2 linked regions of the Homo sapiens genome follow. The protein of the gene in region 1 purifies or fractionates together with the protein of each later gene. This does not show direct contact. Each region holds a gene or a part of one and is shown in the gene's direction. Other genes may lie near its edges. The genes, in order: ENOPH1 and PUDP.

Evidence for each region.
Region 2: the proteins of ENOPH1 (region 1) and PUDP fractionate together in Homo sapiens (co-fractionation; one large-scale study listed by BioGRID). This does not show direct contact.

What each region holds. Positions count from the first base shown.
Region 1 is NC_000004.12:82,454,333-82,458,155, forward strand, and holds part of ENOPH1 (enolase-phosphatase E1), read left to right. Parts: intron 1-389; coding exon 390-522; intron 523-2,582; coding exon 2,583-2,706; intron 2,707-3,823. UniProt on the Homo sapiens protein: Bifunctional enzyme that catalyzes the enolization of 2,3-diketo-5-methylthiopentyl-1-phosphate (DK-MTP-1-P) into the intermediate 2-hydroxy-3-keto-5-methylthiopentenyl-1-phosphate (HK-MTPenyl-1-P), which is then dephosphorylated to form the acireductone 1,2-dihydroxy-3-keto-5-methylthiopentene (DHK-MTPene).
Region 2 is NC_000023.11:7,078,532-7,082,354, reverse strand, and holds part of PUDP (pseudouridine-5'-phosphatase), read left to right. Parts: intron 1-3,823. UniProt on the Homo sapiens protein: Dephosphorylates pseudouridine 5'-phosphate, a potential intermediate in rRNA degradation. Pseudouridine is then excreted intact in urine.

The sequences.
Region 1 (3,823 bases):
ACAGTGGACATAATTTAACCTTTTCTTGTCATGAAGAACATCAAAGATTATATTATATCATTGCTGTTGTTTGCTTTTTTGAGTTCTTCGGGAATTTAAAAAACACTTTCCCATTTCATCCTTTTATCTGTAGTCCCTTTTTACTGTCACTAGTGGCTGTCTGTTCAAAACTATCCTCCTTTCCACATAGATTGTTGCTTCTAATCTGCTGTGAGCCTGGAACTTGGGCAGTATGTTTATTAGAACTGCAGGAGTTTGTAGTCTCAGGGAGCTGCTTCTCAGGTTACCATGTGGGCACAAAGAGAGAAACATATGGCATCTGTTTTGACAGGTTTTTATCTGGCTAGATGAGGTGTTCCTGTATTTTAACTTAGTGGTCTTCCCTCTAGGTTCTTTGCAGATGTAGTTCCAGCAGTCAGGAAGTGGAGAGAGGCCGGAATGAAGGTGTACATCTATTCCTCAGGGAGTGTGGAGGCACAGAAACTGTTATTCGGGCATTCTACGGAGGGAGATATTCTTGAGGTAGGTTACCTAGTTTACTTTGTTGTTTTGACGCTATCAAAGCATAAAATAATGAATCTTAATGGAAAACTAATTGGAACTAATAGAATGCTTTTTTTTTTTTGGTTGTTTAAAATTAGGTAAGAAGAAAATAATCACTTTTAATTATATTGTATTTACAGTTTCTTCTATATAAGGTTGTTATATAAAGTTTATTCTGTGTCTTGAAAAATAAAATCAGTTAGGATGCAAAATAGGATTGTGCAGTCCTGAGAAATATATAAAGACTTTTTGAATACAGCAGAGAACAAGGTGCACTCATTTGTTTCTGGCTCTTTGAAGAAATATAGATTTCATTTAAGAAGAACCAGCATTATTATAGGAGAACCAGGCACATTTTTAAATGTAATAAGGTCGTCACCTGTTGCATTTCATGTACATGAGAAAATTCTTGCTAGCCCCTCTGTGTCATCATCCCTGCACCCCCTGGAGGATGGGGTGATCAGTGAAAGAAGTGACTACATTTAGGGTTTTAAAAAGAAGTGCTGATTAGCTGAATATAGACCAAACTTAACAATAGGTAACTTGGAATATAGACTTAACTTAAAATAGGTTACTTACAATAGGTAACTTGACCAGATACTTTTTAAAAATAAATATTTACCGGCCGGGCGCAGTGGCTCACGCCTGTAATTCCAGCACTTTTGGAGGCCAAGGTGGGCGGATCACGAGGTCAGGAGATCGAGACCATCCTGGCTAACATGGTGAAACCCCGTCTCTACTAAAAATACAAAAAAAAAAAATTAGCCGGACGTGGTGGCGGGCACCTGTAGTCCCAGCTACTCGGGAGGCTGAGGCAGGAGAATGGCTTGAACCCAGGAGGCGGAGCTTACAGTGAGCTGAGATCGTGCCACTGCACTCCAGCCTGGGCGATAGAGTGAGATTCCATCTCAAAAAAAAAAAAATTTACTTATTTTAACTTACAATAGGTAACTTGAATATAGACCGAACTTATAATAGGTTACTTACAATAGGTAACTTGGCCAGACAAGTTTTTAAAATAAATATGTATTGAGCACCTACCATGTGCAAAGAACACTTTGGCTTTGGAGGTTGTAATATTCTAATTTTAGTATTTTCCTACTTTCTGTCTTATTTTTAAATCAAATATTAATAATGAAACCCTTTAATCATTGGTGACTGTTCTCTTAATACAGATACAACTTCTTTTCTGCTCTCTCTGACAATCATGACAGGACAAAAGTACCTACTGAGTTCACTAATAAGAATTTTACTCTCTAGTTACCAAGTGAGGCAAACTGCAAGAAAAAGAAAATAAGCAAAATCAGTTTTAACTTTAAAAAAAAAAAACTTAAAATTACTTTTTTTTTTTTTTTTACCTTCCCATTGGCCAAACCCAGTTTGAGTGCTTACTATGCTTGTTTTTAGTTTGTGAAAAGTTCTGAAAACATTCAAAAGATCACATCTTAGTAACTGACCCTAAATATGGACTTATTTTAATTACTGTTGGTCAAATTAGCAAGTTACAGATTTGACTCCAATTGTTTCCAAGAGGGCAGAGACATAGACGAGCCCTTGGGTAGAATTTCAAAACGTTTTAACTAGAAAATGAGAATTTCTTGTAAGTAAAATAATAGCTTATTCATGAGGCAGGTTAGAGAAATTTTTTCATCGTAAGATTAAAGGACAGTGTTCAGAATCTTTCATCAGGAGTAAAATTCAATCCAGTGAGTAGTTTGAGTGCAAATCATCTTTAAGGGTAGGATGTAGGGCATGTTTATTTTAAACTATTTCAGATGTAAAATGAACGGTAGTGAAAACCAGGTAGATTATGAAATGATCTTATGTATGTTGAGCTGGTAGTTTTCTTCTTCCAAATGTCTGTTGCTATAAAATCTTTATTTTTACTTTGTATAGCCTCCATAAAGTTCCCTATTAAGTAGATTTTCAGAAAATACTGAACGAATGAAGTAATTGTGATTGTCATGTATTTCAGAGAAAGGCATGAGGGGCATGCAAGTGTATTTGTATTGCCAGTCTTTCCCCTTCTCTTTGTTCAGCTTGTTGATGGTCACTTTGATACCAAGATTGGACACAAAGTAGAGAGTGAAAGTTACCGAAAGATTGCAGACAGCATTGGGTGCTCAACCAACAACATTTTGTTTCTGACAGATGTTACTCGAGGTGAGTAATAGACTTCTTATATTATATACTCCAGGATATGAACTGAGCCTGGCACTACAAATACATTGCCTCTTTAAAGAAACTTTATATGGGGATCCTTGAAAAATAAAACAGTTTTACGGTTTTATATAAAGAAACAGTGTCTGGTTCAAGTTCATGTTTGAATTAAAAAAAAAAAACACAGCAGTGAAGGCAGGCTTGGTGGCTCATGCCTGTAATCCCAGCACTTCTGTGGGCTCAGGCAGGAGGATTGCTTGAACCCAGGAGTTCGACACTAGCCTGGGCAACAATGTAAGACCTCTGTCTCTACAGAAAAATTCAGAAAGTTAGTTGGGTATGATGGCTCACTCCTGTGGTCCCAGCTGCATGGGAGGCTGAGGCAGGGGCATCAGGTGAGCCCAGGAGGTCGAGGCCGCAGTGAGCCGTGTTTGTGCCACTGCACTCCAGCCTGGGTGACAGAGCAAGACTGTCTCAAAAAAGAATGAACCAACTCTGGGGGTTGCATGTGGGGAAGTGGCATTGAAAAGACTAACTCTTCTCGTTTAACTCCTTGTCCGTGATTTCCCAGCCATCGCTATGTACACACACACACACACTATGACACAGGAAATTAACAGGAAGACTTAGAGGAGTTGTCATGGGAAGGAGCATGCAAGCGGGGTTGTGAGTATAAGGGGTAGGTAGTTGAGCCAGCCAGTTCTGGGATTAAATGCACAGTTCCATTTGTGATCCCCGGACCTTTGCTCTATCTCAATATTAAGAATTATAACCCCTGTCCTTAGACCACTTATAGTTTCTTCATATTCTTGTGTTTAGCCACTTAATTTTTGTATTTGGGATCACATAGTACATCTATAATTTCAGATCTTTCTCTTCTCATTTAAGCCATTTCCTCAGTTGCAATTGTAGAAATTATTCCTAATTTTGGAGAATAGAAATAATCCCTAAATTGGCTTCAAAATGAAATTAGCTCCCTTTGATTCTCTGTAAGGAGGTTTTATTCCTGCCCTTCATCTTCTGCTGGCCCCATACACACTTAGGCCAGAACTTGGGTCATCGGCAGCTGGGATGAGGCAGGGAGCTGTCTGCCTGCTTGCTCTTTTCTCTCTGGTCCTGT
Region 2 (3,823 bases), on another chromosome or scaffold:
GACCGCGCGGCAGCTGCCTGTCTTCTGCCTCTTTCCTTTGTTTAATCCTGTTTAATTGCACATCCCTGTTCTCACCCACCTTGGGTCTCTAGGATGGAGGAAAGCAGGAGCGTTTCTTCCCACTCACAGTGCTGATTCTCCACATTCCCCAGTTCTTCCCCTGGAGATGTGTCCTGTGAGCTGATTGTTTGGAGCAACAGATACCTAGATATCTGTCTCTCTGCCCTTCCTGTAAACCCACGGAAGCACACCAAATTCTAGGAGCTGGGAACTGGAGTTCATTTATACACATAATTAACCAGCTTCTCCCTAGAACAGAACTCCATTTGCATTTTTTCGTCTTTTACTTCTCAGGGAAAGCCACTGAGTGAGACAAAGTTTGTGTGCACTCTTTAAAAGATGAAAAACTTTGTGAAGGCATCAGGCAGTTTTGAATCAGGTGATTAGGATCGTTCATTCCTGATGATACACTGGAGCTATATCTGATGATAACGACACTACCTAACATTTATCTGGGGCTTCCTCACCCATGTCATTTTCCAGGCATTGTTCTTCTTGTGAATTAATTCCATGAGGAACGTTAATCATTGCTCTTTGACAGATGACAAAATTGAGGCCCAAAGAGGGCGTATAATTGACGGATGTCCCGTAATCTCTGACTGTGGTCATAGTCTTGTCTTGGCTTTCATCTTCATAGGAGTCCCAAGCATTTTGGAGATCTCAGTATGTTGTGGTGGTGTAAAGCAGTCGTCCAAAACCGTTTTTGATTCATTCTCCATCAATAAGAATGTTGAGCTGCATTCCAGTCTAGACACATTGGTGTGTGTTTGTTTATCTACTCCACCTTAGAAATAATTCACAGCAATAGAAATGCAAGAAGGATAAGCTAAAATAAAATAATCGGCCGGGTACAGTGGCTCACATCTCTAAGCCCAGGGCTTTGAGAGGCCGAGGCAAGAGGATTACTTGAAGCAGAACTTCAAGACTAGCTTAGCTAACATAGGGAGACCCTGTCTCTACAAAACATAAAAAAATTTACCAGGCATGGTGACATGCACCTGTAGTCCCAGCTATTCGGGAGGCTGAGGCTGGAGAATCGTTTTGAGCCCAGGAGGTCAAGGCTGCTATGATTGTTTGACTCTGCTCCAGCCTGGGTCACAGAGCAAGATCCTGTCTCAAAACAATAATAATAAAATAATCTGTTTAAGTTTTTAAAATTAATAGCACCAAAGTACTTTAAGAAAATTTTTATACAGTGTGTTTTACAGAGCCATGTGTTTAAGTGTGCTCCATTTTTTAAAATATTGGTTTAAAATTGTGTGATCTAGCAATTTAAAAATCTTGTTTTAAATTCAGATTGTTTTGATACTCAGCTTTAATCACTGTTTATATCCAGACAGAAGTTCATGATTGGCTAATTTTTTTTTTTTTTTTTTGAGATGGAGTCTGGCTCTGTCACCCAGGCTGGAGTGCAGTGGCGCTATGTCGGCTCACTGCAACCTCCACTTCCTAGGTTCAAGCGATTCTCCTGCCTCTGCCTCCCAAGTAACGGGTTACAGGACGCACTGCCACACGTGACTGTCTCTTTTTTAAAAAAATTAGAGCCTTTTATCTCATCCATCAGTTAGGTTAAGGTTTAAATTGAAATTTAGCTAATAAATATAGTCCTCTGTGATACTAATCAGTGGTTGTTGCAAACTAATGAAATAGTGTGGCATTTTAGTATTTTTAACTAATGGATTCAAGTTCTGTAGAAGCTCTTTAGGTGGAGTACTTCTACACTGATTGAATATTGTTTTTATGCGTGGAGGTATGTGTATGTATGTTCATGAGATCTGTCGTTTTCTTGTCTGGCTTTTGTCTGGTTTTGGGATCAGGGAAGTGCTGATGTAAAATGTAAAATGAGTTGAGAGGTGTTCCCTCCAATTTCCTGAAAAGTCTGTTTAGAATTGGCATCCTTTTTTTCTTGGGAAGTTGGTAAATTTACCAGCAAGGCCATTTGATCCTAGATGTGGGAAGGAGGTTTTTAATTACAAATTCAATTCCTTTCATAGGCAGAAGGCTATTCAGGTTATTTGTGTCTTCTTGAGGGAGTTTTATATCTTTCAAAGAATTATCTCATTTCATCTAAATGGTCAAATGTGTTGCCATTAATCCTATAATAATTAAGTTTTTATCATTTTATCGATGTTAGAATCTGTAGTGATGTCTGTCCCCTCTTTCCCTGCTAATGTTAGTACATTTGGATCTTCTTTATTTTTTTGATCAGTTTAGCTAGGAGTCTACTAATTTAATTGCTCTTCTCAAACAACTCGCTTTTGATTTAGTTGGTTTTCTGTATTCTACTTTTATTTCATTGATTTTCTCTCTCATGTTTATTATTTCCTTCCTTTTATTTGTTTTGGGTTTAATTTGCTCTTTTCCTTCACTTTCTTAAGGTAAAAGCTTAAATCATTGAACTTCTTTCTTTCAGGTTTTCAATGTGGCAACTTAGATCACTTATTTGAGACCTTATTATTTAACATATCACTCAATGCCATCAGTTTTCATCGAAGCAATGTTTTAGCCACATCCCAGAAATTTTGGTAGTTTTTAGTTCTCTACAAAATATTACCTAGTTTCCCTTTGTGATTTCATCTTTGACCCATGTCTTACATAGAAGTGTAACATCCAAATATTTGTGATTTTCCACATTCCTATTATTAATGTCTATTTTAATTCTACCATCGTTAGATAAGGTATTCTGTATGATTTTAAGTATTTTATAATTTTTGAGAATAGTTTTATCCTTATAATAGGATATTTCTTGTTGAATGTTCCACGTGCACTTAAAAATAATGTGGTTTCTGCTGTTGTTGGGAGAAGTATTACATAAACGTCAATTAGGTCAGGTTGCTTGACAGTGGTTCTGAAGTCTGCTGTGTCCTTACTTCTTTTCTGTCTACTTGTTTTATCAATTACTGATAGAGGAGTTTTAAACTTCCTTCTACGTTTGTGTTTCTCCATTCAGTTCTATTGGTTTTTGCTTTATGCATTCTGAAGCTCTGCTATTTGATGTTTACACATTTAGAATTATGTCTTATTGATGAACTGATCTATTTGTCATTATGAAATGTCCCTATTTATCCCTGATGATAGTCATTCATTGTTCTAAAGGCTTGTTTGTTATTAATGTAAGTAACCTGGCTCTCTTTTGAGCAATAGTTATGTGGTATGTAGTTTTCTATCCTTTTATCTTCAATCTATCTGTGTAGTTATATTTAAAGTAGGTTTCTGTAGACAACATGTAGTTGGGTCTTTTGTTTTTCTTTTTTATTCTGATAGTGTCTATCTTAGGTGTGTTTATAATACTTATAAAGCCGTTACATAAGGTCATGATCTGCTAATTCCATCTGTCTCTATCATTTCTGTGTCTATTTCTCCTGATTGTGGGTGGTATTTGCTTCTTTGCAGCATGGTAATTTTTGATTGAATGTTAGACACTATGAATTCTACACCCAGTGGAGTGCTAGATTTTGCTTGATTTCATTTGCTTTATTTAACTTTGTCCTGGAACTACATTATGATCTGTCCATGCCTTCCTTTTAAAAATCTTTAGAGGGTCAGGTGCTCCAGATATCTGTTACCTTATCCTGAATGACTGTAGGTGTTCGGAAAAAATGAGTCTGTTGATTGTTTTGTGTAACAATTGACAAAGTAGGGACATTAAATCATGACATTATTAAAATAGGCATGATTATACAATTATTTAAAATAATTTTAGGCCAGGCGTGGTAGCTCATGCCTGTAATCCCAGTACTTTGAGAGGCTGAGGCAGGCGAAT